4 separate regions of the Homo sapiens genome follow, and all the other regions are linked to region 1. The links come from fine-mapping of genetic effects on gene expression. A gene starts in region 1. Each other region holds a variant in brackets. All regions are shown on one strand. Distances are between the middles of the regions. Region 1 holds the start of CAB39L (calcium binding protein 39 like). Region 2 overlaps CDADC1 (cytidine and dCMP deaminase domain containing 1). Region 3 overlaps CAB39L (calcium binding protein 39 like). Region 4 overlaps CAB39L (calcium binding protein 39 like).

Region 1 (8,109 bases):
GAAAAATATGGGAAGCTACTCAACTTTTTCTTAAGCAGTTACTCAATTTTTTTTTATGAGATATGAAATTTTTTTCACTGCTAGTACACTAGGTCCATAAACTTTTACAGATGAATTGTACAAAACTTTCAGAGAACGGCTAATTTTTATCATATACAAACTGTTCTGAAGCAGGAAAAATATGGGAAGCTACTCAACTTTTTTTTATGAGATAAGTATAACCTTGACATGCAAGAAAAAAACTCAAGGCCCAAATCACTACTGGGTCTTAGACACAAAAATACTGAATAAAGGTATCCAGCAGTAGAATAAGAATGTATTACCAAAATAGTTTATCCCAAGAATACCTAAAAAGTTTAACATGAAAAGTTTATCAATGTGAATGCTTATATTAACAGGCAAAGGGAGGAAAACTATCACTTCATGCAGAAAAACAAAACAATTCAATATAAAATTATTCCATGGAAGGTGGGGGGGCCCCTTAGCAAATTAGGAAAAAAGAGAACTTTCTTATTCTGATCGAGGCTATCTACCAAAACATCCTACTCAATGACAGCAAACATCATACTCAATGATGAAACATTCGGAGAATTTTTATTAGGCACAAGATGAAGACAGTTGCTATCACTGTTTTTATTCAATACTGTACTGGAAGTCTTAGAGAAATTCAGTAAGATAAAAAGAGGCCTAAAGATTGGCAGAGGAAAATCCATCTGTAGAACAAATAAGTTAACAAAAAGTCAAAAGCCAAGCAAGAAGCTAAGAGAAAATGTTTTTAACATATTTTAACAATAGCAACAAAAAGGAGGCATAATTAACCATACACACCAAAGAGACTTCTAAAAATACAGTATCGAGGACACATAAAGAACTTAAACATGTTTTTAAAAAACTATAGAAATGCATATAAATTATAGGTTAACAAACATAATAGACACTTCAATCTTAGATCACAGAATGAAAATTAAAATTAAAAATATAATTTGCAGCCATCACTAGGCAAAAATGAAGAAGATAATATCTCATGTTAGTCTAAACTGTAGAGAAACTTAACTCTCATAAACTACCTGTGGAACATGTAAATTAGTAGAGGTATTTTTGGAGGCAAATTTAGCATGACCTATTAAAACTAAAAATGCTCACAACTTAAAACCAAGCAATTCCACTTTTAGGTATATATCCTAGAGAAATAGCACATGTGCACAAGAAAACACAAAGATTTTCCTTGCAGCATTGTTGTATGGTGAAAAACTGGAAACCTAATGTTCTCAGAGAATGGCAATAAAATGTGCTATACAGCACACATCAAACAAAATAGGATTTAACAACAAGACCAATAAAAGAGACAAAGAAATGTTTTATATTAACAGATCAATTCAGTCATACACTGGAACACTATGCAGCAGGTAAAAGAAATGATCCATAAATAACATAATGAGCTATAAATAACATGTACAGGCTGCAAAAACAATGTCAAGAAATAAAGCTACAGAATGATGTAGTATAGTATTTTTCCACTAAAAAATTACAAATGTATATATTCACCTATATAGAATATGTAACAGTATTAAAAGGTGTAAGTATTAAAAAACACTTGAAAGCTCTGTACCAAAGTCTCCAGCGGGAGTAGGGAGGGAGAGGAGTGAGGGAACATTCCTTGTACAAAACTTTCAAAGAACGGAGAATTTTTATCATATACGAACTTTCAAGAAGGAAAAATACGGGAAGCTATTCAACTGTTTTTATAAGTATAACCTTGACACGCAAGAAAAAACTCAAGGTCAAAATCTGGATTGTGCTCTTTATCTACAAGGTACCAATTCTGTAAAAGAATGTAAAAGTGTACTTAATTTTTAAAAATTAAGTATATATAAATGTTCAAAAAGGAATTCATTTTAAAGCTTTTTATAGCATATTGTCAAACTCTCTTCCAGAAAGGTTCTACCAATTTATACTTCCACCTAAGCACACTCAGTAATAGTTTTATTTTTTTTTAGACATGAGGTCTATGTTGCCCAGGTTGGTCTTGAACTCTGGGCTCAAGTGATCTGCCAAAGTGCTGGGATTATAGATGTGAGCCACCCACCGCGCACGGCCATAGATTTTTTTTTTTTTTTTGAGACGGAGTCTCGCTCTGTCACCAGTGCAGTGAGAAGGGTGCAGTGGCGTGATCTCGGCTCACTGCAGCCTCTGCCTCCCGGGTTCAAGCGATTCTCCTGCCTCAGCCTCCCGAGAAGCTGGGATTACAGGGGCCCGCCACCACACGCCCGGCTAATTTTTGTGTTTTTAGTGGAGACGGGGTTTCACCACGTTGGCCAGGCTGGTCTTGAACTCCTGACCTCAGGTGATCCGCCCGCCTCAGCCTCCCAAAGTGTGGGGATTACAGGTGTGAGCCACCGCGCCCGGCCCATAGCTTTGTTTTTAAGCAGCTCTCACCAGCGTTCACACCTGAAAATTTGAAAACTGAACGTGCACAAGTAAAACATGTTTCCTGGAGAAAATCTGCAAAATACAATAAAGCATAAAGGAGAAAATTTAAACACCATCCCATCATCCAGAGACAACTGGTGTTAATATTTCAGAGAGTAAATGGGCTTAAAAAACTTTTTTCCCCTTCTCACTTTTTCATTTTGGTAGAAAAATAATTAAGCCAGTCTGCTTTGCTTCAATGTATGGTTCCTTTTCGTTTCTAAAACAGGCTTTAAAAACACGTTTACCATTTCCTCTCGGCTCCTTACGTTTTAATTGTAACGACAGAACCACGGGTTAAGTCACGCTTAAGAACCACGGGTTAGTCACGCTTCTAACTACTTCACGTGTTCTTATTTAATCCCCCTAACAGTCATGTGGGTTAAATTAGCAGCTCGTTTGCTGATGAGGAAGCTAAGGAATGCCATACCGTAAGTGGCAGACACGAAATAAGGAACCAGGCAGCATGGTTTCAGAGCCTATGCTTTGGTTACTCCATTTGACCTCTTCAAATTTACTCCTCTCCTTGGCCTCATGTGTTAGTATTTACAGAGCTCACTGCAGGTTTCCACATGCCAAAGAGCACAGTTAATTACATATCTTTCCTTACTTAATTACTTATTGGGCTGTGGCTGATAGCGAGTCAGAAGTGTTACTATCTAATCTGAACTCCATGATCTTGGATGAATGACTGAACTTGCTGTATTTAAGGGCTCGTGTAATCTTACCTGTGAAATGGGCTAGTGGTTTAACCTTCAAGTTCTGCTTCTGGGTTTTATACTGCTGTCCATTTCCTGCCGCCCCTTTGACAACCTCAGGTTCCCAGCAGCTTAGGAATCACCTCTCATTAAGGCTGCACCCTGAGACAGACAGGCTGAAATGGAGGTTGGAAACTCAGTGCGCCCGCGGCCCCTTCTGCAGCCAGGACTGCACTTGGGTGCCAGGAGAAGGGAGGCTGCAAGGGCTGGGGTCCAGCCCCTGCTCGGGCGGCCGAGGGCTCCGCGGCGTTTTCAGCTCCTCCAACCTCCCGGCTAGAGGAACTGTCGGGGGCCAGCCACGGCGGTGCCTTGGTTTCACCTGGCTCCGCTGCGTTTTCTACGCCGCCCGCCTGACCTGAGGAGTGAGCTCCGCCAGCTCCGTTGGCAAGGCTGGGTTCCTCCGCGGGTGGGGCTCTCCTCCGACGCCAAGCCGCCCAAACCTCCCGAGCGCAGGTGCCCTCTGGCCGGGAAGTACTTCACCATTTACTAGCCTTCATCTCAACCACAACAGTCCCGCCCTGCCTCTACCGGGGATGAGGGAAGGCGTAACCTCCGCCGGGGACCAGGCCGACCTACCTAAACCGATCACTACATGGGAGGAGTCGGACGCCGGCCGTCCCACCACCCAGCCAGGAGCCCATTGATTGGTCGCACTCCCCACTGGTTCACGCCTCAGAGACTCGGCGCACTTACCGCTGGCACCGCAGTGGCGCCCGAGCGCGCCGCCTCCCGATTGACTGCTAGCGCTCTCGGCTTGTCTCGCGCACTGTAGCTGAGCCAATGGAGTTACTCGTAGTCGAGAGGCCGGCATCACTGGAGTGGTGGCGCAGCTGTTTCCTCCGGTAGGTGTGAGGCTGCCATCTTGTGTGTGGCTGGGACTGGGCTTCTTGGGGGTTGAAAACATACATAGCGCCTGGCCGTAGTGGAGGGGTCCGGAGAGAACAATGGGGTAAAGGAGAGGCCTAAGGGAGGAGACCCAGCGCCTTCCTACTTGCGGAAAGGATGGGTTTCCTGGGCCTGAGTCTCATCCCTGGCTAGAGAGAGCGAGGAATGGTGGTGGTGGTGGTGGTGATGGTTGTGGTGGTGGTAATAGTAGGGATCCCAGGTTTTGGTTTGTTGATCATTGTGGGGGCTGGGCGGGGCCTTTGATGCCTTAACATTGGTTCCTGGGAGCTCTTTTAGTAATTTTTGTCTCGCAAAGATTCTGACCATCAACCCCCTTTGACAAAGGAGGCTAGCTGATGAACTGCCTGATTGAGAAAGGAGCAAAGCTAGTAGTGGAAGGGGAGTGCCTCTCTACTATCCTCAGGTTCAGAAGAGACCTCCTCTTCCGTCCTTTTCGAGGGAGCGGCTGCTAAACAGTTTGCTCTTCGCGGGGGTTACTTTACTAAGGCCATCCTTTGGTAATAGTGGGCGTCAAGTTCTGCGTTTGGGCAAAATTGTACATTAGCGGGCAGCCAAGCATTCCTGCAGCTGTCTTTTTTTTTTCTTTATTTTAAGCTAGAAAGTGGTGGTCTTGCAGAAACGGGGCGTGAAGGAAGAATTTTGTCAAATCTTGATTTCCCCGATAACGATATGTTGAAGATTATAAATCTCTGGGTCTGCCATGACATGCTTGGTCACTTCATGGAGCAGGAGGAGGCTTTGTTAGGGAAAGCACCTTAATTTCTGAGCTCTTTTTGGGGTAGGAGGAAGAAGACAGGACTTAACCTTGTTTCCCTCCTCCTTTTTTTTTTTTTTTTTTAGCATTGTTGTGGATGGCATTGCATTGTCTTTCATTTGAGGGGAAAATGTATTGGATCTGAAGACCAAGCTGATGAAAGGCTAATATTTTGTGGTAGATTTTAGCAGTTTGACTTGCATGAAAAGAAAGCCGATGTATTATTGCCTTCAGCTTAGATTTCAGTTATTCAAGATTAACTGATGAACAACCTAATCAACAATACATGATAAAGACATCTCGCATCAGGAATACCAAAAAACAAAACAAACAGCAAAATAATTGATGTTTTTTTTTTTTTTTTTTTTTTTTTTTTTTTTGAGATGGAGTCTCTTGTCGCCTATGCTGGAGTGCAATGGTGCAATCTCGGCTCACTGCAACTCTGCCTCCGTGGTTCAAGCGATTCTCCTGCCTCAGCCTCCTGAGTAGCTGGGACTACAGACACCGGCCATCACGCCCAGCTAATTTTTGTATTTTTAGTAGAGATGGGGTTTCACCATGTTGGCCAGGCTGGTCTTGAACTCCTGACTTTAGATGATCTGCCCGCCTCCACCTCCCAAAGTGCTGGGATTACAGGTGTGAGCCACGGCACCTGGCCTGAGAATCATTTTTCTTAATTACTTGATTCCATGCTTGTATCTTCCACTTGACTTGTATCTTCCAGTTGGCTTGTCAAAATGCATGGAGAAACAAAAGTTCATATACCTTTTGACCTTTTCTAAGAAACTTGTAAGGAAATAGAGATAGAATCAAAGCTTTATAATCACAGTGTAATTTTGTTCTTGTGAAAAATTGGAAATAACAAATATCTAATGGTAGAAGAATGGTTTTATAAATTATGACACATCCCATCATTATATTTTTCAGCCTTTTAAAAGGAACGTTTTCAAAGAGTAGTGGCATAGGCTGTTGAATGACATAGGAAAGTGGTTACCATTTTGTGTTAAATGAAAGAAGTATAGAATAGTCATTGGGAAAATGCAAATTAAAACCACCGTCATTGGAAAAATGCAAATTAAAACCACAGTGAGATACTACACAACCTCTTACTCAGAATGTCAAAACAAACAATACATTTCCTGGCAAGGATGCAAAACAAGGAGAAACCTTAGTCTTGCTGGTGAGACTGCAAATAGTACAGCCACCTAGAAGACAATTTGACAGTTTATTATAAAATTAATCATATCCTTATCACATGATCTGGCAAGCCCACTCTAGATTGAAATTTACCACCAAGATAAGAGAGTTCCAGTAGTTTTTCATCCTTGTCAGCACTTGGCATTATCAGTTAAAATATTTAGCCTTTATATGAGGTATGATGGGGTATCTCATTGTGGTTTTAATTTCCCCTTTGATGATTGTATGCTTCTCTGATGAAAAGTGAAATGAAAACCTATATTGGCTGCTCTGCAAATATTTATAGCGATTTTATTTGTAATGGCCAAAACTGGAAACAACCAGATTCCACTAGGAAATAGATTTTTTTAAACTCCAGCATGTCCATACAGTGTAACATAGGAACCTCCTTTTTATTTTCTTTAGAGATGGGATCTCGCTATGTTGCCCAGGCTGGAATACAGTGGCATGATCACAGCTTACTGCAGCCTTGACCCCCCAGGCTCAAGTGAACCTCCCTCCTCAGCCTCAAGAGTAGCTGGGACTATAGATATGTGCCACCATGCCTGGCTAATTTTTTGGAGAGATGGCATCTTGCTATGTTGCCCAGGCTGGTCTCAAACTCCTGGACTCCAGTGATCCTCCTGCTTTGGCTTCCCGAAGTGCTAGCATTATAGGCATAAGCCACTGTACCTAGCCGGGAACCTCCTTTTAGTATATAGTTATATAAATATATGGGAAAAGGGAATATATATATATATATATATATACACTAAATCATTATAAGAAAATCATCAAAATAAGCCATAAAACATTGCACGAGATTATGAAAACATACCCCAAAAATGTGGCCACAAAGCAGATGAAAATGACAATCTAAATATTTCAGAGTAAGCTAAGAGAATTTAAGGAAAAGATGAAATCTTTGAAAGAACCACATAAATTCAGAAATAAGAGCTCAGACATGAGATACGTAGGAAGTTCTAGCCAGAGCAATCAGGCAAGAGAAACAAAAGGCATCCACATAGGAAAAGAAGTCAGACTATCTCTCTTGGCTGATGATCTGATTGTATACCTAGAAAACCCTAAAGACTCCACCAAAGGCTCTTGGAACTGATAACTTCAGTAAGTTTCAGGATACAAACTCTGTACAAAAATCAGTAGCGTTTCTATACCAATAATGTTGGAGCAGAGAGCCAAATCAAGAATGCAGTCCTGTTTACGATAGCCATACACACACACACACACACACACACACACACACACACACACACACTGCCTAGGAATACCTCTAACCAAGGAAGTGAAAGATCTCTACAAGAACTACAAGACACTGCTGAAAGAAATCATTGATGACACAAACAAATGGAAAAACACTCCATGCTCATGGATTGGAAGAATCAATATCATTAGAATCGCCATACTGCCCAAAACAAGCTACACATTCAGTGCTACTGAATGTGTAGCTTGTTTCAAATTATACTTTGAGGCTACAGTAACCAAAAAAGCATGGTACTGGTACAAAAACAGACATATAGGCCAATGGAGCAGAATAGAGAGCCCAGAAATTAAGCTGTACACCCACAGCCATCTGGTCAACAAAATTGACAAAAGGAAGCAATGGAGAAAGAACTTCCTATTCAATAAATGGTGCTGGGATAACTGGCTAGCCATGTGTATAAGACTGGGCTTCTACCTTACACCACATACAAAACTGGACTTCTACCTTACACCACATACAAAAATCAATTCAAGATGGATTAAAGATTTAAATGTAAGAACTCAAACAGTAAGAATCCTAGGAAAAAATCTAGGAAACATTCTGGACATCAGCCTTGGGAAAGAATTTATGACTAAGTCTTCAAAAGCAATTGCAACAAAAACAAAAGTTGACAAGTAGGACCTAATTAAACTAAAGAGCTTCTGCACAGTAAGAGAAACTATTAACAGAGCAAACAGATAACCTGCAGAATAGGAGAAAATATTTGCAAACTATGCATCTGACAAAGGTCTAATATCCAGAATCTATAAGGAAGTTAATTCAAC
Region 2 (8,109 bases), 150 kb after region 1:
GCCTCAGCCTCCCAAAGTGCTGGGATTACTGGTGTGCGCCACCGTGCCCAGCCCTATTTGCATGTTTAATATGATTGTTCTTCCAGAGGTTTCCAAAAGATTCCCTGCTTAAGCGTGTAGGATATCTTTTAAAAAACCCAAACCAGTAGAACTTTCTGGGTCCACTAAGTGCAGCCCATGGTGCCATTATAATAGTACCAGATCTCTGTGAAGTGGAAGAACTGAAAAAACATGTCCCTGTATTTGTTGGGAGGCCAGTTCTTTTCTGTGTACCTTTCATTCATTTTCATGAATACTGATGTATGTCCATCTCCCCAACTAGACGATAAGCTCCACGAGGGCAGGGTTTGTGTCTGGTTTTCCTCACCACTGTAACTGCACTCCTCACAGTGCCTGGCTCATGGTAAGCTAAGCCCTGGCAAATATTTGTTAATGAATTGTACCATGTTCAAAAATAAACAACCTGGAGAACCTCTGCTGGTTATCATCATGGGTGAAACAAAGTTGGTCAGGAGTTACGATCTGCCACACAGAAGCCTCCCGGCTCACGAGCTTCCATTTCTTGCAACTCAACAGCATCATACACCACAGTATTTCAGACTTCTCGCTTAGCTCTTGTTTTTGTTTTTTTCTAACATTGTGAATGTGCGCACACACTACACAAGGTACTTCAAGCTGTTCAAGCCACCCCCAGCCCCTCATGCACATTAGGCAGAGCCAGGCTGTTTCCATTCACTCCACAGGAAGTGAACTCCCCCCAGCCTCCTCCCTCCACCTTTTGTCCTTGGGATACATCCCCGGCCCGGGCCTCTCTGGGTACGGGTGTCAGCACTGGGATGAACTGTGGTTTCTTTCTCGTTCATCCTGGCCTGGACCCCAATTTCTGAGAATCATGGGGTGGTGGGAAGTATTCCAGGAAAGTTCTGGCTCATGTCCTTCTGGAAAGACATGTGCTTTCCCTAACAAATCACTCTGTGCTACACTCACCAAAGGAGCTCCTGTCCCAAGATGGGCTCACTTCTTTCTTTCTCCTTCCCAAGTGTTACGTGGGTTTAGATATAGACATTCAGGGGCGATAAGCTCATTTATGTATCATAGTGTCACTAAAGATAGAGTTCATGTTTATAGAGTGTTGGTACCATTCATTGACCCAGAAATAAAGCTAACTTGGCCAGGCGCGGTGGCTCATGCCTGTAATCACAGCACTTTGGGAGGCAGAGGCAGGAGGATTGCTTGAGGCCAGGAGTTCAAGACCAGCCTGGGCAACATAGCAAGACCCCTGTCTCTACAAAAAATAAATAAAAAATAAACTAGCCAGGCGTGGTGGCACGTGCCTGTAGTCCCAGCTACTTGGGAGGCTGAGGTGGGGAGGACCGCTTGAGCACAGAAAACAGTCAAGGCTGCAGTGAGCTATGAAGGCACCACTGCACTCCAGCCTGGGCAACAGAGTGAGACCCTGTCTTGAAAAAGGAAAGAAAAAGCTTCAGCAGCAATACAATGAAAATACACACACCTGCGTATGTTCTGCATGACTGGGATGAAGGAAGCCAGGCAAATGCTTACACTTAGCTCCCCTCACAGTAGCATATTCTGTGGCCACTTAGGCAGTAAACAAATGGCAGAGCTATTTTTTTTTTTTTTTTTTTTTTTTACAAATTATGAACTTACCATCATCCTCCCATTCTTTGAAATTTAGAAAGACATTGTATTTTTTGTTTAAGTGTAAGTTCTGATTTCTCAGGCTAAGGGATGAAGACTGGGAATTTATAGATCTGGGTCAAAAGTGCCCCACAGAGCTTCTCCAAACCCAGGCGGGCTCCTGGGGTGGCTCAGCAGTCTGTCTCCATCACTTTTTCCCAGAAATTTGTCTCATTCCCACTGTTTACCTGGCAAACCCCTGGATCCCCTCAGGCCCCACCTCATCACCTCTGCCTCTACAGGGTCCTTTCCATGACTCCCCAGAGTGCTGGTAAATCCTCGTGTGCCCCCACTGTTCCTACAGTTACATCCACAATGGCAGTTCTCAGCCTTAAAGGTCACCAGAATCACCCGCAAGGTCGTGAAACCCCAGCTTGCTGGGCCCACCCTGAGAGGTTCTAATTCAGTAAGCCTAGGGAGCACCCTAAGAATATGCACTTCTAACAAATAGTCTGCTGGTCCAGAGACATTTTTTTCTTTTCTTTTCTTTTAGACTAAGTCTCGCTCTGTTGTCCAGGCTGGAGTGCAGTGGCATGATCTCAGCTCACTGCAACCTCTGCCTCCTGGGTTCATGTGATTCTCCTGCTTCAGTCTCCCAAATAGCTGGGATTACAGGCATGCAATACCATGTCTAGCTTTTTTTTTTTTTTTTTTTTTTTGTATTTTTAGTAGAGACGGGGTTTTACCATGTTGACCAGGCTGGTCTTGAACTCCTGACCTCAAGTGATCTACCCCACTCAGCCTCCCAAAGTGCTGGGATTACAGGTGTGAGCCACGGCACCTGGCCTGAGAATCATTTTTCTTAATTACTTGATTCCATGCTTGTATCTTCCACTTGACTGTGAGTGTCTTAAGATCAGGAGGCATTTCTCACACATCTCATCCCCGCAGTCTAGCAGTGTTTAGCAGTCATTCAATCAATAAACAAATATTTATGGAATGCCTACTGTGTGCCAGGTACTGTTCTAGACACTGGGGTTCAGCAGTTAAAAAGTACACACACACACACACACACACCTCCCTGCCCTCATAGACTTCACCTTCTGAGGCTACACAGTAAACCATCAATGATTATTTATTGAAATCTGACCAGTTGTACAGAAGAAAAAAAATGGCATTATCATGCCTCTCTTAATAGTACTGTGGAAATGCCTATTTTTCCCTTTCTAATCACAGTTTTTCCCACTTGTATGCTTCTTCCTCTGATATCCCATCCCAACACCCAACAGGCAAATCCACAGACCTGGCAATATGCCAGGATTTTGGGTCTTACAAAATATTTACTGATTGATTTATAAAATGTTTGGTGTACATGACATGTTAGTTAGAAACAACAAATCCAAGAGCTGAAGCATGAGAGTTAATACAATAAAGCAATTTGGGAGGTAAGCAATCTCAGTGTTTTTATACTGATAA[G/T]AATATCTTAATTCACGGTTTTCAAACTAGCCTTAGTTACCTCTAAGTGTACATCACCTCCTCTCCTGTCCTATCCCATGCCCTCCATCTGTGTAGTGTTTATGGCAGTTCTTGGCTGCCTTGTATGATGACTCTGAACTCCCCATGGTCCTACACAGGCTGCAGTCACAGCCCTGGCATGGAGCCAATGTTTGGATGGTCGTGCGTGTAATTCTGAGAAACTGGTAGGAAGCCCAGTGAGGCCGTGTGATGTGGCGGAAAGGCAGGGAACAAAAGCAGAGGCAAACCTGACCACCGCAGATCCAGGAAGACATTTCTCATGAAGCACCCCAGGCCACCCCTCTCTAACCTAGGAGAGAACAGAAAATGTACCTTCATTTTTGGAATAATTTTCTGAATGTTTCTCAGCAAATAAAAATGTGAGAAATCACAGACAGCAATCTGGAATAGCTGAAATGACCATACTTTCAAGACTTTCAGTATTTATTCTTGAGGTTGGCAAATGTTTTTAAAAGGCTCTTCCTTTTGAAGATCAAAGCCATGAGACAACCTATGTTAATTATACAGAAGGGAAGACTATATGGGGGAGCAGCATTTATTAATGGAATTCTAGGAAAGCTAGTTTCAATATTCCAGACTCAAATATTTCTTCTCTGTTAACATCATAACCAAATTTGAGGTTCACTGTTAGTGATTTCAAGAGTCAGTGATATCAAGCAGCGACACTGTCTCAGAATAACACTCTCTTCCTATTGCTACCCAAAGTCTGTGATAAACAGGACCACAGAATTAACATTTACAAAATATACTTTAAAAATGGAGACAAAGTCCACTAACTTTATTTTTATGAGTCAATTCTAATTAAGTAAATTCTGATTACTAGAAAGCTTTGGGTATAAATGTGATCTTTTGGTTTGCTATACACTGACTCTTAAAAGATGACACTTATTTCCCTGGAGCAGTTTACTAACTGTCACTCTTGTAATTCAAAAGAATTAATATTTCTCAAAAGGTGTGTGATTCCCTGCAGAGGCATGACCTCTTGTGAAGCAGACCCTTTCAAATTGGCTAATATAAAGTCAAGATAAATAGAAATCAGTCCCTGTTGGTGATTACATTGGTTGAAGTTATTGCTCCCTCATTTCGTGTAATAAAATAACACACTACTACATTATGGAAAACCCACACATAAATCTAAAAGACAAATATTCTTATTAACACCATTTGTATCCTAGAAATAAATTAGCTTCCTTAAAAAATCTTTTCAATTATTCACAAAATCCATCCTTATTTTCTGAATGAACAAGGCTGAATTTTAGAAGTGCAATGAAAAGTTCTTGAGGTTCCCCTGCAGTGTAGACAGGCCTTCTTAGTGGATTCCGAGGCGCAGCTTCTTGTCCTGGTGCTGCTCTTCCTTCTGTGGGACAGGTCTCAACACACCATCTAGCATTGAGAATAACGCTAGGTCAGGACAGCTTCATTTCAAACCCATGGGCACTTGTTTCAGCCTTACATGTTGTAAGAGCAAAACAATGCTTAAGTTAAAGGAACTTTCACTTTATTTTATCTTCAAATTCTCAATTGTAGAGAATCCAATCTAGATAACTTACTCTCAGGCAATACAGAATCTGGCTTTTAAAAACTGGATTCACATTGGCCGGGTGCAATGGCTCACGTCTGTAATTTTAACACTTTTGGAGGCTGAGGAGGGAGGATAACTTGATCCCAAGAGTTCAAGACCAGCTTGGGCAGCATAGGGAGACCCCATCTCTACAAAAAAAATTTTTTTTTTTTAAACAGGTGTTGTGGCGCACACCTGTAATCCCAGCTACTCAGGAGCCTGAGGTGGGAGGACTGTTTGAGCCCAGAGAGGCCAAGTCTGCAGTGAGCCATGACTGTGCCACTGCATTCCAGCCTGGGTGACACAGCGAGACCCTGTCTCAAAAAAAAAAAAAACCAAAAACTGAATTCACTCAACAGTGTACGGCAAGTAATTCATAAAACTTTTTGTTTTATGTTTTTGGTGGGGGGACGTCCTATTACTAGACTGGAAGAAATAAAATGTACCTCCTAAGGGAGAAGGGGACTGTGTGTGGGGTAGGGAGAATCTGGGGACTGGAAGGAAGACGGACTTATCTGACTGGGCAGGCTGGGAAAAGAGTATGGCTTCAACCTCTTCCTGGCTTTTGTGTTTAATAGCTTTATTTGTACAATAAATGATACATGTTTAAAGTATGCAATAAACTAAACATAAAGTGTATAGCTTGATGAATTTTTTTAATTTACTTTTTGATTTGTAATATTTGTAGAGATGGGGTTCTCAGTCTGTTACCCAAACTGGTCTTGAACTCTTGGCCTCAAGCAATCCTCCCACCTCAGCCTCCCAAAATGATGGGATCACAGGAAGGAGCCATTTTGCTTAGTCCAGTTTCATGATTTCTGACATAAGTACACATTCATGAAACTATCCCCACAGTCAAGACAATGAACATATCTATCACCTGCAAAAGCTTCTTTCTGCCCCTTTCTTCCCATCTTTTGAGGGATTTCCTGCCCTGAGCCTGTATGTTCTGCCCTGCTGTTTCCTTGTCCTAAGGACACCTGGGCCAGGGCTCAGACTTGCCTTCCAGAGGTAGATCTGGAAAGCCACCCCTCTCTCTTTCTTGTTCTCATCATATCATGTAATATTTGAAACATTCTCTCTCTCTATATATAATGTATTATGTAATATATAATAATACATACATAATACAGATGGGAGTTCTAAAGCCTAACAATAAAATGAACACTCATGAACTTACTGCCCCAAAAGAGTTACAGTTTGTTTAAAACTGAATAAAACTACATTATGTGTGTTGGGGGGAGATGGAAAAAAAACAAAACATACTGCCGAATCCAACAACTAGAACATTATCAATTCCCGTGCGCTCCCTCTCTCGTCCCATCCCCTTTCACCCCACTCAGAGGCAACTCCTATCTTGATTTTTGTGTTTATCAATCGATTGCTTCTTAACAATAACTTTACTGTATATACTATATATTAAAGTATATTTTATTTATTTATTTATATATTTTTTGAGACAGGGTCTGTCTCAGTCTGTTACCCAGGCTGGAGTGCAGTGGTGTGATCTCAGCTCACTGCATCCTCAACCTCCTGGGCTCAGGTGATCCTCCTATGTCAGCCTCTGCGGTAGCTGGGACTACAGGCACAGGCCACCATGCCAAACTAATTTTTTGTATCTTTTGTAGAGATGGAGTTTTGCTGTGATGCCCAGGCTGGTCTTGAACTCCTGGGCTCAAGCAATTGGCCCGCTTCAGTCTCCCAATATGCTGGGATTATAGGTGTGAGCACCATGCCTGGCCTACCACATTTAACCAATATATGGTATGTCTTTTTGAACTTTATACAGAAATGGTATCATAATTCTGTAGTTTGCTTTGTTAAATTCAACATTTATATTTCTAAGATTCATCCATGTTGAAGAATGTAGCTCTAGTTCATTTGTTTTCACTGCTATATGGTAGTCCATTGTGGGAATACACCATAATATTTTTATCTAACCACCCAAAACAAACATTTGTGTTATTTCCAGTTTTTGCTTTTAAAAACAATATAGCAACAAATTCTTTGTCTCTCTGACTCTTATACAATATGCAAGAGTTTCTCTAGGGCATACGCTTATAAAAAATGCTATTTCAGGCCAGGCGTGGTGGCTCATGCCGGTAATCCCAGCACTTTCGGAGGCCAAGGCGGGCAGATCACCTGAGGTCCAGAGTTTGAGACTAGCCTAGCCAACGTGGTGAAACCTCGTCTCTACTAAAAATACAAAATTAGCTGGGCATGGTGGTGCATGCCTGTAATCCCAGATACTTGGGAGGCTAAGGCAGGAGAATCTCTTGAACCTGGGAGGTGGAGGTTGCAGTGAGCCAGGATCACGCCACTGCACTCCAGACTGGGCGACAGAGTGAGACTCCGTCATAAAAAAAAAAAAAAAAAAAAAAAAAAGCAAAAAAAAAGCTACTTCCGTGCAATGTTAATTTGCATTTCTCTGACTACTAATAAGTTTAATCATCTTTTCATGTGTTGATTGGGTGAACTAAGTTCAGTTCACTCACCTTGCAGCAGACCCAGACCTGATCTCAGATCCCAGCTTATATGGACATTTGTCCCCAGGATAGCTCTGGCTATTGTGTTCGCTTACTATTGCTCCTCAGATTCTAGCAAAATGCCTTCTTATCTCTATTTTGTTCTTAGGAGAATATTTCTCTTATTTTCTTGAAAGCTCCATGACTCTTTAAAAAGAATGCTTGTTATGGGTTACCTGGGTTCCATTTGCATGGAGTGGAAGGGCACTTGAGAGTTGTCAGTCACACTGCCTGCCTTCCTTCTCTGTTTGTCCCTGCTACTGGCACTGAGAGAGTATCCAGCAGCAAGTCCCCCTCTGAGTTAGACAGACTGATTTACCCAAAAGTCAAGCCCCAGTCTAACAACAAAGCTGGTGTTGTAACTTTCATCTGTTGATTCTGGTGTCTATTTCTCAACTGAATCAAAAATTGGAAAGGAATTACATACTGTATGATTCCATTTATATGAAATGGCCAGAATAGACTAATCCATAAAAACTGAAAGAGTGGTTGCCTAGGGCTAGGGGGAGTGAAGAATGGGGAGTGACTGCAAATAGGCATGAGACTTCTTTCTCAGATAATGAAAATGTTCTGAAATTATGTTGTAGTGATGCCTGTACAACTTCGTGAATCTACTAAAGAAGCAAATTTATGATAGATGAATTACATATCAGTAAAACTATCATATAATTAAAAAGGAAATGGGGTATTGCTTACTGAGATCAAACACTTGTTCAAAAATGCATAAACATAAACTTAACTGTTCAGTTGAACTGTCACAAAGCAAACATATGTAACCATCATCTGGGTCAATAAATAAAACATTGCCAGCAAACCAGAAGCCTTCCTTTTGTCCCCTCCTTCCAATCT
Region 3 (8,109 bases), 100 kb after region 1:
CAAAGGGTTTTGTTTGGTTGGATGATTGACTTGATTTTGGCATTGGTTTTGGGTTTTTTATAACCTCCTAATCTTTTTGGTTTTGAGCTCTTAAAGGGACTGTTGCTCAGTTTAGTTATTAATATTGTAACATTGTTAGTTTTTTATTTTGGCATAGATTTGTCTACCAAAAGTCTTTTCCCAAAAAGGATTCCATACAACCATAATCTCTTTCATCCCTCCCTCTAAAAATTCCCATAATAGAAGTGGTTTGAATTCTGTCTTTCTCTGCCACCTGATAAGCTGGATGTCCTTGAGCAATTTAGTTAACCTTTGAGTTTTATTTTCCACATCTGAAATGAAGAAAATCATCCCTTTTTCACGGACTTGTGAAGATCAGAAACCGTATTTGCAAAGTGCTCGGTACACTCCCCAGCACAGTCAGCCCTCTAAACGGCAGCTGTCGCTGGCTCCTCAGCCTTTTATGTCCCTGCAATTAAGTGTCTCTCTCACTCTACCCCAAGTTTCTCTCAAGCAGTATTCATTAAAAATATAGATATCAGATTTTTCAGCATAATATACTATGCAAAACTTAGGCCTCTCAAAACAGAATTGTTAGGAGGTAGGATGAAAGAGTACACTATTTGAATTAAGGTTTTTAAATTCTAAATTCTTTGGAGTTTGAACTTTATTTTCCTTCACAATTTTCTGTCTTTTCCTTCTTGGGTAGGATCCTAGCTGTTTTTTTTGTGGTTTCTTTTTTTTTTTTTCACTCAGTTATGTGATCTATAATGCAGCAATTATATTTGTCTATGTATTATGTGTACATAAGCCTGTGTGTATGTATATGTGGTTTGTATATACATTTATTATGTACATAAATTTGAGGGTATATCCATGTATCAATCCCATTACACACTGGAGTGGAAATGTGGGCGTGAGAGAGGGAATGTGTGCATTGTTTATTGGCTGTATCCATGATATATATATATATATATATATATCTAGCATATATATATATATATATATCTAGCATATATATATATGCTGGAGGAATTCTACCCCACCCTATTATGGTTTCCTAATACTGGATTTTCAAGCTGTTTCAAGGTTTTCTTGCCTTGGAATTTGAAAGTGTTGGTTTTAACCTAACTCCCTCCTGATCCCTTTTTCTTTGGGGTAACACTAATGTATGACACAACCTTTCAAGGCAGCACTGATCTGCAACCTGCTCTTTTTGTTGCCACTGGGGCTGTGTGCGCTGGGCCTGCAGTGTGGGGAACCCAGTCCTCACTTTCAAGGCTGACGATAGTTGAAGCAGGTAGAGAACTCCCATGGGTGCAGCAATCCACAGTGTCTGCTGCAGCCCATAGAGGGGGCTCCCTCTGCCCTGGTTCAGCTCAGAAAATTTCTATTACTGCTCATGGGGTTTCTATGATGTTAGGGGAGGGATGCTTGAAAGCATGACACCAATATTATCCTTTAAAAAAAAGAGTAGGGACCTCAAAGGATCTTGTGGAACTACCTTACTCTTTCAAGGGTCCCCTGATGCAGGAACTAGTTTGAATCAAGACCTTTGACGGGGTGGGAACGGAACCCCTGTAAATGGTTTTCCATTTTAGAACTTCAGTTCCAGAGTGGTAATGAATGCTCTGCTCCACTGGGGGGGAAAAACACCATGTTTCCACTGATAGGCCCAGTGGTTGATCAAGTTGTGTGATAGCAATAGGGAATTAAGAGCCACTCTTATTATTTTTGAATTTGAAAATTATAGTACACAATGCTTTAAATATTTTACTTTTTAAAAAATTAAAGTAGAAATAAGTGGGTTTTATTATGGTTGTTATCTGCCTTTTCTTTGTGAAGTTATGTTGTGTACCTTCTATATGCTTTTAGGAAATTTTAATTAAATATGTATTAAAAGAATTTATTTTGGAAAACTTTAAAATTCTTGTTATGTTTTTAATTAAATTTTTCATAGCACCTAGACAGGGCATTTAGCCTCTAAGCATATAAAAGGGATTAAGTGAGGCTTGTTTTCCTACAACATTAAAGTGAGTTAAGGATATAATTTAGGTATGAGTTGAAGACAGTCAAATGTTTCTTCATGCTTTGTTCAGTTTTCTGCAAGTTTATATCTGCCATAAGATAGGGCTACTCATCTTCAATTTTGAAAGGATGGATTGTGCTACTTAGTAACTTGCACAACACCTTACATCCCATTAACCCAAGAGCAGGAACAATACTGGTTTGACACTGCTAAATGTCAGTCCTACGCTTCCAGTATCCGAGGCGCCCATTTTAAAAGTGGTTAAGGCACTTTGGGAGGCCGAGGCAGGTGGATCACAAAGTCAGGAGATCGAGACCATCCTGGCTAACACGGTGAAACCCGTCTCTGCTAAAAATACAAAAACAAAAAGCCGGATGTGGTGGCGGGCGCCTGTAGTCCCAGCTACTCAGGAGGCTGAGGCAGGAGAATCGCTTGAACCCGGGAGGCAGAGCTTGCAGTGAGCTGAGATCATGCCACTGCACTCCAGCCTGGGTGACATAGTGAGACTCCATCTCAAAAAAAAAAAAAAAAAATTAACTCATCTCAAGTTCCATTTGTTTCACCAGTTAAATTATTTCTATCATAAATCTAACAATATGAATTTGAAACACTAGGTTTAACACCAGAGTTTTTCTTTTCTAACATGAAACAAACTTGTATTTCACATCTTAGGCTAAGCTAGGAATGGAAATAATTTTGTGGCGCAAATGAAAATGTTCTTCTGCAACTTTTATATGTTCTTAAACCTTAGAAAAGACACATTTGTAATATTAATAGCTATAACAGTTTTGTTTCACTTGGTTTTTCTTTTTCTAGGATTTACTAACCAGACATAAAGTGTTGGTAGCAGACTTCTTAGAACAAAATTACGACACTGTAAGTAGAAATCATTTTTAAAGACTTTCCCACTTTCTCTCTCCCTCCCTTTTAGATCTATGAGCAATTGCCCCTGTGAATTATCCACAAGAGAAATCAGTCGCATTCAACCATACTCCTGATTTGTCTACCTGGAAAC[C/A]AGGTCATCAGGAAACTTTATGGAAAATTGAGATGGCAGGAGGTCAGGGCTTTCACCTTTTTCACATCTCTTCGTGTTGTGCTCTGAAGCTCAATAAATGACTAGCACCTGCTTGCTTTGATGTTGCAAATCAAAGGAGGCAGTAGGTAACTCCAAAAGGAAGAGAACCCCACCCTCACTAAAGTACATCATTTTACTTGGTTGATAATTAGTCTTACTTAGTAGTAAAAATACCAGAAATATTTTTTATCTTGCAACTCCCTTCCCTGACAGTGAATCCAACTCATCCTTTTGAGATTTGGTTGAAATATGACTCTTTAGAAAGCTTTCCCTAATCCTACCCCTCCCAAAACATGCATCCTTTCTCTTTCTCTCTCTCTTTCTGTCTCTGTCTCTCTCCCCTCTCCTCTCTCCTCTCTCTTCTCCCTCCTCTCCCTCCTCTCCCCTTCTCTCTTTCTTCTCTCTCTCTCTGGCTCCCTCTTATTTTTCACCTTGTATTATTATGGTGTGTCTGTATCTTTCTGGCTGGCCCTTGCACCCCCTAAGAGGCAGGAATCTTATCTGCAGGACACAGGGTTAAGAGCACAGTATGGACTTTAGAGTCTTCGTGCTTGCTTGGCTTCAAGACCTGCCTCCTTAGTGGCCCTGGGCAAGTTACTACACCCACTGCAAAATGAACATAGTAATAATACCTGAATCATAGGGTTGTTGAGGGAGTTTGACGGGATTTAAAGTTTTCAGCACAGTACCAGAGTAAGCACTCAGTATTAGTTTTTAATCGTTGTTACTTGTTTTCCTAATGCCTAATGCAGTGTCATACATTTGGTGGTGACAGATCCATCCAAAAGCAACGATACTTTTACTAAATGTGTAAGCAATAGAAGCAGCATTATACAGTAAAATATAGCTCAAACCTAGAAGGAAAACTTTGTATGTTTTGTTCTAGTGTTGGTTCAGATGCTCTACCTCAGTGCTGTCCAGTAGAAATATAATGCCAGCCAGAAATGAGAGCCACTATGTAACTTAAAATTTTCTAGTTAGCCACACAAAGAGGTAAAAAGAAACAGGTGAAATTAATTTTAATAATATACATCTATTTAACCCAACATACGAAAAATGTTATTTTAATGTACAATCAATATGGAAAATGATCATCGCTTCTCGGTCTTTTGGCTAAGATGAAGTGAAAAATGATCAAGCTATTTTACATCCTTTTTTCATGCTGAGTGTTTGAGATCTGATGTGTATTTTACACTTACAGCACATCTCAGTTTGGACTAGCCACATTTCAAGTGCTCAGTAGCCGCGTATGGCCCTATGTTGGACAGCATGCATCTAAACTAGGACTTAGGGAAGGGGAGTCTCTGATCCTCATCCTAGCAACAGCCACAGTTATTTTTTACTGGGATTTTTGGCATTTTTACATGTGTTAGTTAATGTTACTACTCTGTCTCCATCACCCAGTCTAGTGCCTGACACCTAACAGCAAGAATGTAATCTGCTGTCTTAAAGCAGCACTTAACTATTTGTATTATTGATGCCTAAACCAAGAAGTTCTAAATATTTATATATATGGTATGATGAATGGATTTTTTTTGTCTTCATCTATTAAAAGCAAAAAACAATTTCATGTGTATATGATATTTATGGTAGTAATAAGTAAATTAAGGTAAAGTATCTTTATTGATTGAAATCTTTAGTATTAAATTAAATTACATGTGCTTACAAAAAGAAGTACATTTTTGATGATTACTATGACTTTATGCCTTCCCAACAGTATGCAGTATAGTTGGGCACATAATAGGCATATGGACCAGTGGTAGCAAACAAATATTAATAATAGTCCTCAAGGAGTCTCTGAATCATTTATATCCTAGACAAAGGTTGCAACATACTCCTGAATACTGGGAAGGTGTGGCCTACTCTGCCTATCAATAGTATATCTTCACACATTCAAATCACAAATATTTAACTACTTCTCTTTTAATTATAAATAAAATAAATTTTATTTTTGCCAGTTGTCCTTCAATTTAAGATTAGGAATTAGCAATATAATTATAAAATCAAAAGTGATTTTTATGTCCTCATGTTATAAAGGAAATAGCCACAGAATCAACTAGAGTATTTGTTTTAAGTGTAAAATGTGAGGGGAGGATGATTTTTTAAATTGATACAAAATAATTATACATGTTTATGGGGTACATCAGATATGTTGATATATGCATACAATTTGTAACGATCACATCAGGGTAATCAGGATGCCCGTCACCTCAAATATTTATCGTTTCTTTGTGTTGGGAACTTTCCAAATCTTCTCTTCTAGCTATTTTGAAATATACAGTAAATTATTAACTATAGTCACCCTACTGTGCTGTTGAATACTAGAACTTATTTCTTCTAACTGTATTTTTATACCTGTTAACCAGTCTCTCTTCATCTTCCCTCCCTCCTACCTTCCCCAGCCTCTGATAACCTCATTCTACTGCAAGGAGAATAATTTTTATTGCTAGAGGCATCCCAAAATGTATAGACTGAAAGAGGCGGGTGGATCACGAGGTCAGGAGTTCAAGACCAACCTGGCCAAAATGGTGAAACCTTGTCTCTAATAAAAATACAAAAATTAGCCAGATGTGGTGGCGGGTGCCTGTAATCCCATCTACTCGGGAGGCTGAGGCAGAGAATTGCTTGAACCCGGGAGGCGGAGGTTGCAGTGAGCTGAGATCACATCACAGCACTCCAGCCTTGGCATCAGAGCGAGACTTGGTCTCAAAAAAAAAAAGAAAAAGAAAAAGAAAATTGTCTATTTTTGAATTTAGGAAATGAACTGTTAATATATAGTTTGGTTGTTCAGTAACTATATATGCTAGATGGAATGTTAAGGAAAGATTCATTAGATGTCACATTTATAAGAAATAAAATTTTTAAAAGGCTAAGATAACGTGGATAAATCTACAATATCAACTAATTACTATTTTTTCCTATAGAATGAATGAGGTAAATGTGTTGTGCAGTAATGCTTTGTGTTCAGGTATAATACATGACAGTTTGAGAGACTAATAAATTCATTCTCTTTGACTCCTTTTTTACCTAATTTTGTTTTTACATCCATATATCACTTCTTGTGTAATTTAGTAATTTCACAGCTGCTGAAGCTCCTGCATTGGCCTGAATGCGAGCTCTGAGAACTCATGCCCCTTCAAACCTTTCAGACTCTTTCAGCTGATATTTCTTTAGCAGTATGCCATGAAACTGGAGCACATGATGCATGACTCTAAAGTAATAAAGCTGGTGGACTCGGGAGTAGGTCATACCACATACATGTATTTGCATTTTATATTTACTATTCAAATTTATCACAAGGCTTGTCTGATGCATTTAATGATCCACAAAATTCTCCTTGTGTTTCAGGATAGAATAAATAAGTCATTCATATTAAAGAGTATAATTACTGTGATTTTAATGTGAGCTACACCTTTGTATTTTTACTTTTCACTTTATTCTCTATCGGTGATTGTCAGCATGCACAGCTTGCCCTCATTACACAGCGGCACACACTCTCCCCTCGCACTTGACTCTCCGAGGGCTAGGAGTTTGTCACCCTCTTCAGTTCCTGATCTCTTGTCCTCCGTCCTGGCTGCGCTCATTCCTCCCACTTCAGTGCTCTATGAGCTGTGTGCCCACACCTGATGGAAGTGAATGCTGAACCTCCCCAGATGCCAGCACTCTGTGTTAAACTGAAGGGCTAGGCCATGGTTGGTGACCATGTTAGGAAAGAAGACTTCGTGCACCAGTGTCCCCAGCTTCCGGTGAGAGTGAAGTGCTCCAGAGAGACTAGTTGGGCCGTCATGCAACAAAGGTTGCCTCGTTCTTTATCTGTTTATGCAGTGAATTGAACAGTCTGATTCTTTATGGCTTGCCAAGTGAAGCCTTAAGTGTATTTAATATTTTCCCAAATTGTGGACCCATAGCCACCAGCAAGGCTACTTACATAAAGATTTCTTTAAAATGGCATAAAATGAGTTCTCTTGCAACTTTTACTAGAAGTTTTATTCAAAATGATTTATTGGAAGGACTCAAAATTACTCAGTTTTTATCTAATTTGCAGAACTAAAATAAAATAGGGAAGGATGTCTCTTGTAATTCTTGACCTCCCTGTCCCCCAGTGTCTTCACATGTAAAGAAGGATGGTAAAATGGCCAGAAGTTGGGAATTTGCTCCTGAAAAAGAAAGCAAGCCAGCCTAATACGGAGAATCCACTGCTGCTTTTACACTCTAATGTGTATTTTCTTTTCATTAGATTTTTGAAGACTATGAGAAATTGCTTCAGTCTGAGAATTATGTTACTAAGAGACAGTCTTTAAAGGTAATATCAAATTTCTTTAAGTCAGTGTCCCCGTAAGTTTATATCTCATTAGCAAATGACGGGTCTATTAGTATATGAGTAAACACAGAAAAATTAAAATATCCTTTTTTTAAATAACTTGAGAAGTATTTACTATATTTTATGTTATGACTGTATTTTATAGCAAAATAATGTAAGTGTCCTGTCCTGCTTTTGGAAGTAACAATATAAGTACATGATAAGTAAAATTTAGAATATTTCTGCTGAGGCCAGGCATCTTGGCTTACGCCTGTAATCCCAGCACTTTGGGAGGCCGAAGTGGGCGGATCACCTGAGGTCAGGAGTTCGAGACCAGCCTGGCCAACATGGCAAAACCCCATCTCTACTAAAAATACAAAAATTAGCTGGGCGTGGTGGTGGGCTCCTGTAATCTCAGCTACTCGGGAGGCTGAGGCAGGAGAATCGCTTGAACCTGGGAGGTGGAGGTTGCAGTGAGCCAAGATCGTGCCAATGTACTCCAGCCTGGGCAACAAGAGCGGAACTCCATCTCAAAAAAAAAAAAAAAAAAAAAAGACATGTAAAATGCAAAAATTAAACCTTCCCTCTAAGTTTTAAGCACAGCAATTGATAAATTCTTAATATCTGTATTTTTGAGTATAAAATAGCTTTTTACTATCAAATTATGTTTATATAGTTGAAATGTTATGGGGCTTCTGTTTTATG
Region 4 (8,109 bases), 31 kb after region 1:
AAGGCTATTTTAAAAATTGGAATATAAAGTGCCCACTATCTCAAAATTAACTATTCAACACTAATCAGGAATGGATTACTATCCAACCATTATCTTAATCAGGAGTGGATTGGGTTCAGATAAGAGCCAGTGAGATTTTAGATGCCAACATAAACTGTGAGATCTAATTCAAATATCTATTTAGGCATCAAAGAGAAACACCAAATTACTATAGACTAACATTTGCTTGGTTCTATGTAGAAGATTTTGAGATTATCAGTTTTCTTTTTCTGCTTCTAACAAGAGCATCAGGATACGTAGGACCTCTTGACCTTCTCTTACATCTTACCTAATTCTCAGTGTGTGTTTTTCCTCCTCAGTAGGCACATTAATAATAATAATCTTAGCTAATATTTATACAGTGCTCACTGTGTACCAGGCACTATTCTGAGTACTTTATACATTAATTCATTTAATCCTTATAATAATCCTATGACATAGGTATGTTATTTCCATTTTACATATGAGGAAATAGGGGCCCAGAGAGGTTAAGTAATTTGTCCAGGCACCTTGTAAGTTGCAGAGGCAGTACGTGAAGTCAGGTAGGAGGCTCCAGAGCCAGTTTTCTTCATGACTAGATACTCCGTTACATAGTGCCTACAGGTCCAGGGGAAGAAAGCACTGTCTCCTTGTCAGCATTGTTCAAACTGTGGCTTTCCACTCACTAGTAGGTCATAAAATCAGTTTGCTGAGCTGTAATCCACAGTTTAAAAATATTAAATTGAATAGCATAGACAATATCAGACTGCATCAGATGTGGTAAGAGCAGTTGTTTTGTGAAACTTTTGCTTTACTTGCACACATGTTAGCTTGTTACTGGGGTTTTTGTGTTAGCCGTATTTTTTGTTGTGGGTCAGGGGCAAGGTTTGAAAGCACATTCTGTAGAAGGGCAATAGTTCTTCTATTTGGAATCATAGGCCACTGGCTCTACTTTTTCTAAAGCCAGTAACAGAGTGACATGTTCTGTCCTCACTACAACCCAGTTTAGTTGCACCTCCCCATCCATGAACAGTGAGACAGTTGGGGTAAAAGCAAGACTTTCCAGAAGATGTGGTTCAGCATAAATGCTCTTTGCTTGTTAGGAAAGTCAGTAGTAAAGTTGAACATGTCAGAGTAAGCCTGAGTGAGCTTCTTTCTGAGAGAAAGCATTATTTGCTTTGTAGGACAAAAAACACAATGAAAACCAAAAAACTCCAGTTCTGTCTTTATGAGCTTCCCCACTCATCATCTAAAAGTCAGCACTTCCTCTCTGTTTTTCCTTATGATTAGAGACAAAAGGCATAGTAGAAAACAGGAAAGTAATTTATAATTTTTAAAAAATTAGTTGGAGATTTATTAACAAATATTTGTTGAGTGCCTACCGTGTACAAAGCATTATTTTAGGTGCTGAGGATGAAGCAGTGAGCAAAACACACCAACATCCTGCCCTCACAAAGCTCACATTCTAGTGTCACTAAAGTTGTTCTGTATGAGGTCCAAATCAGCACCCTTCCTGTGCCCTTAAAACTTTACTCAACATGGGGTTATAATGGAAACTCAGAAGTCTATAGGCTTCACCAGTACCATAGTGTAGAGTGTATAGATCATAAATATATCAGAGCCCACATTTTTAATTTTATTTTAATTTAATTTTTTTTTTTTCCAAGACAGAGTCTTGCTCTGTCACCCAGACTGGAGTGCAGTGGCACGATCTTGGCTCACTGCAGCCTCTGCCTCCCAGATTCAAGTGATTCTCCTGCCTCAGCCTCCTGAGTAGCTGGGATTACAGGTGTGTACCACCACACCCCGCTAATTTTTGTATTTTTTTTTTTAGTAGAGAAGGGGTTTCACCATATTGGCCAGGCTGGTCTTGAACTCTTGACCTCATGATCCACCCACCTCAGCTTCCCAAAGTGCTGGGATTACAGGTGTGAGCCACCGCGCCTGGCCACATTTTTTATTTTTTATTTTTATTTTTAAAATTTCTAGAGACAGGGTCTCACTGTGTTGCCCAGACTGGAGTGCAGTGGCATGATCTTGGCTAACTGCAGCCTCGACTTCCCAGGCTTCAGTGATTCTCCCACCTCAGCGTCCCAAGTAGCTAGGACCACAGGCACGCACCACCACACCCAGCTAACTTTTTGTATTTTTAGTAGAGATGGGATTTCACCATGTTGGCCAGGCTGGTCTCGAACGCCTGACCTCAAGTGATCCACCTCCACCTCGGCCTCCCAAAGTGCTGGGATTAAAGGCATGAGCCACCGTGCCCAGCAAGCCTACATTTTTTTTTAATGCCTACTTAATGGCGAAACAAAGCTGCTCCTTTTTTAAAACAAATTTTCCACTTATAAATGCTATTGTAGAAAATTTGATTGTTACAGAAAATTATAAAGAAGAAAAAAGTAATCTGTAGTCTTACTACCCAGAGAAAATTACTGTTAAAATTTTGTTGTATTTCCTTCTAGTCTTTTATCTATATAAAATTATGCATGTCTCTGTACACACACACATAGTTGTATATATATAATATTTATGATTTTAAAATGAATTTGAAGTATTAGTCCTATTTCTTGATTTTTATTTAACATATTTTATTATGTGACTATATATGGCACTTAAAATATTTTTATATGTCTATAATATTCTAAGATGGTAGCATAACATAATTTATTCAACTGTTTCCCTTTTGTAGATACTCTTGGCTTTCCTTTGTAAATAACATTGCAATAACATCATTTACCATCTAGCCATCTCTATTTTCTCAGGATAGCTTTTTGTTAGTAGAATTGATATGTTAAAAAGCATGAATATTCTGGTAAATTGTTTTCTAGAAAGGTTCCTGGGGATTTTGTTCTACTCAGCAGTATACAAGATTCTGTCTCACTACATTCTTCTAGTTCTTATTTAATTTTAAGAACTGTTGCTGCCTCTATTTCTTGAAAAGAATGATTCATTTTTTATAACATTATGCTTCTTTTTACTAAGGCAAATCTTTCATCTGCAGTTTTGACTCTATCCCAATGGAGAAATTGTTAATCTTTTAGTAAGCATTAAGAATTGTATAGAAAATGCAGAATTTGTTTGGAAGAAAAGCATGGATAATTCATTTGTGATGAATGTTGACTCCACAAAGGGTTTGTTCAAGTATTTGGAGACGGTTGTTAAATTGCCTTTTAAGGAGGTATGTCCTTGCCGTTGGAAGAGTCTCTGTTTTGTTGCAGTTTAGGATGAGTTAGGAATACATATTTGGAACTAGAAGAGATAGAGTTTAAATTTTCTGTTTAAAAAAGGGAAGAAAAACTTGAAAGGCACAGGGAAAATCCAGCAGGAAAGGAATAGGAACTCTGGAGAAATGCTATGT[C/T]GTGTATTGTGACACTTCACTGTGACCTCACATATAAAAACTTACAAAAGCCAGGAAATACTTGGTGTATCTGGATTTCTTGTAGAAGCCAGTTAAAAGGGTGAGTATTGGTTGAAATGGGACCAAAACGTGTTGGGCCAAGTGTACAGGGAATAGCTTTTTACCTCTCTCCAGGCTTCTTCCTTTGACAACAAATATATGTGCCCTCCCTGTCCACCACTCCACCTCAAAAACTTCCCTATGTATTTCCCTTTTAACCACAATTTTCTTTTCTCCCATTTCCCTACCTCTCTTTCCGTCCCTTTTCTACTTTCATTCCAGTCTTTGCATTTTTGCTAAAAAATTTTCCTATGCTGGGATATTGTTCCTTTTTCTATCTCACTATATCCAAATCCTAGTACTTTTTCAAAGTGCATCTAAATTCCCATTTCTTAGGTATTTGCTAACAAATCCTCAGGAAATATGTTGTTTTAGAAGAATTTATAAAGTCTATGATTTTTGTACAATTAAAAAAGTCCCATTTCTTTCACTTACTCCTTTTCTTTCCTCACTTAGGTAATCTCTATATTTTACCTTATGATAAAATACGGTAAAATATACCTTGGTCCCTTGCATATTTCTTCTTCCTTTTGTATTTTCTTCAAAACTTTGTATTCAGGTGTAATGATTTTATATAGATAGCTAAGGTTTTTTGTTTTGTTTTGTTTTGTTTTGTTTTCACAAAAGTTGTACAAGCTCCTTGAAGACAGATCTTTTATCACAGACCTCTTTTGAATTCCTTAGAGAACCTAGTATCACACTAGGCTTCTGAAAACACCAATCAAGAGTTGCTTAATGCAGGGGTCCCTTACCCCTGGGCTGCAGACCTGTACCTGTCCATGGCCTGTTAGGAACCGGGCAGCACAGTAGGAGGTGAGTGGCTGGCTGGCAAGCATTACCATCTGAATTCCGCCTCCTGTTAGATCAGTGGCAGAATTAGAGTCTCATAGACAGCACAAACCCTTCTGTGAACTGTGCATGTGAGGGATCTAGGTTGCAGGCTCCTTATGAGACTCTAATGCCTGATGACCTGAGATGCAACAGTTTCATCCCGAAACCATCCCCTGCATCCCAACCTCCAGGTCCGTGGAAGAATGGCTTTCCACAAAACCATCCTCTGGTGCGAAAAAGGTTGGGGACTGCTGGCTTAACGTAATTGAGTAATAGTGGAGAATTAGTGAGATTTAGCCCTCAAACACATTGGGTATCCAATGCATATCCAAAGGCCATAATGTGCAGTTAATTTGAAAATGAGTTGCATGTGTAAATTTTCAGAATTATTGATAACATTGTATTGAAAACAATGACAGATTTTGCATGTTTATCAACTGTGAGAAACCAAAATATTTAAAATGAAAAAAATGCTTATTATTAGGTTGGTGCAAAAGTAATTGTGGTTTTTGCCATTTTTTTTTTTTTAAATGGCAAAGGTAAATTTTATTTATCTGTATTATTAGAATAATACAAATAATCACTTTATGGCTTTTTTTCCAAGGAGAATTAACATTGTGTTTTTAAATTCTGATTTGTTTATGTTATCAGTGACTAATTTTAAAATAGATTATAAGATAGCAAAACAAAAACAAAAAACAACACCCTCACCTACCTGTATGTCTATATATAGAGAAGTGGTTAAACAAACTGTAGTACAGCAATATTAAGGAACACCAATTTGTGCTGAACCCCTATCAACTCCAGTGGGGATGGCACCAGGTTCTAGAGGCCAAGGAGACCCAGAGCCAGCAAAGGAGACAGAGGGTTTTGGGGGGAGTTTACATACAGGGAAGAGAGTCCAGTGGCAGTGGGCTAGGCAAGAGAACCAACTGCTTGCAACAGTCATGCAGTTTACATAGCATTTTCACTTAATGCCTTCTCCCTAACAACCTCCACCTGGTAACCTTCATTTAACCCAAAACAAAGGACCTCGATCCCTTCTATGCCCTGTGTTCCATGAGCCAGGCTGGGGGCTCGAATGTTCCTCATAGATAAGGAATGGGTCTCCAGCTTATCCCAGATTCCTTAGCTCAAAACTGTGAACCACATTCAGGGTCATCCTCGGGATATACTTAAGTCGAGTTTTCAGTGCCAAGTGCATCTACTGTGCAACCATGCAACACTTTTAAAAGAATGAGATAGAGCTACCAAATGTAGAGAAATCCAAGATCTACTATAAAGAAATAAAATAAATTATAATGCAGTGTGTATAGTATTATCTCATTTAAAAAATTATCTTGGTGTGTATTCAAACAAATACATACATCTACGTATGCCTGGAAAAAGGGTCTGGAAGGATAGCACTTTGAATAGTGCTTAATCTTGGGGAGGGGAATTAGAGAAGAGGGAGGTGGGGGATTTTCTTTTTTTTTTTTTTTTTCTCAGGAGAGTCTCTCTCTGTTGCCCAGGCTGGAGTGCAGTGACGTTATCTCGGCTCACTGCAACCTCCGCCTCCAAGGCTCAAGAGATTCTCCTACCTCAGCCTCCTAAGTAGCTGGGATTACAGGCACACACCGCCATGCCCAGCTGATATTTTGTATTTTTGATAGAGACGAGGTCTCACTATGTTGCCCAGGCTGGTCTCAAACTCCTGGACTCAAGCAATCCACCAGCCTCAGCCTCCCAAAGTGCTGGGATTACAGACACAAGTCACCACACCGGGCTGGGATTTTAAAACAATAGAGAAGCATAGAAAATAAAAAATACTTTTTTAATGGACATTTAATTTAAAATTAAAAGATAAAAAGACATGTTTAGAATGAGTACAGCTAGAACAGTGCACTGGTTTGTATTTTATTTGTAAAACAAGATGCCATTCTGTGGTTATAGTTATTAAAACTAATTGTTCTGTGATTAATAGTTATTAAAGGATTATAATCATTTCTCCTATACTAGATCATGTTTTATAAGTCTTCAGATTTGTGGTAAAATATGTTTTATAAATGGAACCCACTATAATTACTGGATGAATTCCATAGAGATTTTTCCATTCAGTAAATTACCTGAATATGTTATATTGCAAATGCTATGTGTTTGTTTGCCATAAATGGCTTTGACTTTGAAAATTGTCATGTGAAGTACTTTCATTATTAAAAAGCATTATAACTCTGTAGAAAGAGATACTTTGAGACTAGTTTCTCTTGACATTTTAAACCAAGTTATTTATAACTCAAGGTTTTCTGTCCCTTCACTCAGCCTGCTTCTTTCTTTGTCCTTTCTTTCTGTGTTCTCTTTAGATCCTGTTTTTCTTCTTGGCTTCAGAGCACCAGCTTACAAGTTGTACTTTTAAAGATTTATAACAGTAATAATATGATTCTCCAACATAAAATTTTTGTATAGTTCTGGTTTCAATAATTTGTAGAAAAGTGAAAATTTGTAAAAACTTGGAAAATTGGAGTATGACACACCTCATAAAAAGAGAATGTACATCAGTTCTCAACAGGGTGGGAATTGTTCTTTTACTAAAAGGTATCTTATGTTCTTAACTGACTTGAGCAAGAACTTTTCATAAGCGTACCAGTTGTGGAGAAAACAGAACATGGATCCAGCAAAGAAGGACAGGGAAATATGAGAATTATTAGTATCACCATCTGCCTGTGGTTATGGCACTAAGCCCATTTTGTTGTTATGATACTAGCTGTATATCGAATCTTGGGGCTCCAAGATCTGTTTCTTAACCTCATCCTTTGTTATTCCTTAAATTGGGCAGTTGGTGGAAAAGCATAGCATGTACTTAGCGTTGTTATATTGTTTAGATATAAGTGGAATTGTGTGGATATAAGCGGAACTTTAACTGTTAAACTTAGGATTTGGTGTACATGAGTCACACCTTTTAGCTTTTCTTCTTACTGTATTTATGTGGATTTTTTTTTTTTTTTTAAATAGAGAGAGGGTCTCCCTATGTTGCCCAGGCTGGTCTTGAACTCCTGGACTCAAGGGATCCTCCTACTTCCTGCCAGACTGCTTAGGATTACAGGCATGAGCCACTGTGCCCAGCCACATGTGGGTTTTCTGATAAGACCAATTTTCACTCTGCTCAAACACATATTCTTTTACTCTACCTTTGTTCTCTTCAGATGATGGTGAGTCCTGCTTTTCTGAGAAAATTGAAGTAAACCTGTGCTTCCTAACTTCATTCCTCTTTCCCTGGGCAGTCTCTACTAATGCTTTCTCCTCCTTCTCATTTTAGAAAAATATATATTATTCCACTTATGTTCTTGATCCCTCCCATTGTGGGCTCAAAGATCATGCCCCATTAATTATCCCTTTCTCATCTTCTACCTTCCTCCTGTCTGTCCCACTCAATCTACCAAGAGTTGAAAGGTTTTTTTTTTTTTTTTAAAGCAAACAAAAACCTCTTTTATTAAGCCCTTCAAGCTGTCCTTCTAGTCTTTATATCCAACACTTGGAAACAGTAATATACGTTCATTTCTCTATTACCTCATTCCTAACCTCTTATAATCCTAATCCTATTGTTGTGTCAGGTACTACTAAGTCTCCAATCTCCCATACAGTGTTCTAGGCATGGCATGGCAGAGTTGGGTTATGCATGCTGCCTGAATCAGAGCCAGTGTTACCAGTTTCCCGGAAGGGCTGGCCTGGAGTCCTCTGCCTGCCTCATGCTTTGCTGTACTGCTGTATGCTCTGATGGTCCCTGCCTGTCTTTTGTCTCGCTGACTACCAGCCTATGTCTTTAG

What was found.
Region 2: its variant is fine-mapped to the expression of CAB39L in cerebellum (GTEx, PIP 0.92).
Region 3: its variant is fine-mapped to the expression of CAB39L in whole blood (INTERVAL, PIP above 0.99). The same link has a PIP of 0.9 or more in T cells, amygdala, anterior cingulate cortex, blood mononuclear cells, caudate and cerebral cortex.
Region 4: its variant is fine-mapped to the expression of CAB39L in testis (GTEx, PIP above 0.99).

What each region holds. Positions count from the first base shown.
Region 1 is chr13:49,439,946-49,448,054 of GRCh38, reverse strand. CAB39L (calcium binding protein 39 like) reads left to right here and starts at 3,991. Exons shown (of 11, transcript NM_001079670.3): 1 at 3,991-4,069. It overlaps SETDB2-PHF11 (SETDB2-PHF11 readthrough), which reads right to left and starts at 3,781. Exons shown (of 21, transcript NR_135324.2): 1 at 3,198-3,781. SETDB2 (SET domain bifurcated histone lysine methyltransferase 2) reads right to left here and starts at 3,781. Exons shown (of 14, transcript NM_001160308.3): 1 at 3,198-3,781. RefSeq lists enhancers at 2,628-3,401, 4,084-4,163, 3,402-4,174, 4,544-4,613 and silencers at 3,874-3,923, 3,595-4,075.
Region 2 is chr13:49,288,132-49,296,240 of GRCh38, reverse strand. It overlaps CDADC1 (cytidine and dCMP deaminase domain containing 1), which reads right to left. Exons shown (of 10, transcript NM_030911.4): 10 at 2,756-4,557. The coding sequence ends at 4,484. Among named protein-coding and RNA genes, the nearest start is that of CDADC1, 44 kb to the right of the region's middle. The variant G/T (reference allele first, on the strand shown) is at 3,115.
Region 3 is chr13:49,338,975-49,347,083 of GRCh38, reverse strand. It overlaps CAB39L (calcium binding protein 39 like), which reads left to right. Exons shown (of 11, transcript NM_001079670.3): 8 at 2,846-2,905; 9 at 7,342-7,407. Among named protein-coding and RNA genes, the nearest start is that of CDADC1, 95 kb to the right of the region's middle. The variant C/A (reference allele first, on the strand shown) is at 3,045.
Region 4 is chr13:49,409,094-49,417,202 of GRCh38, reverse strand. The region is part of intron 3 of CAB39L (calcium binding protein 39 like); the gene reads left to right. Among named protein-coding and RNA genes, the nearest start is that of CAB39L, 31 kb to the left of the region's middle. The variant C/T (reference allele first, on the strand shown) is at 3,380.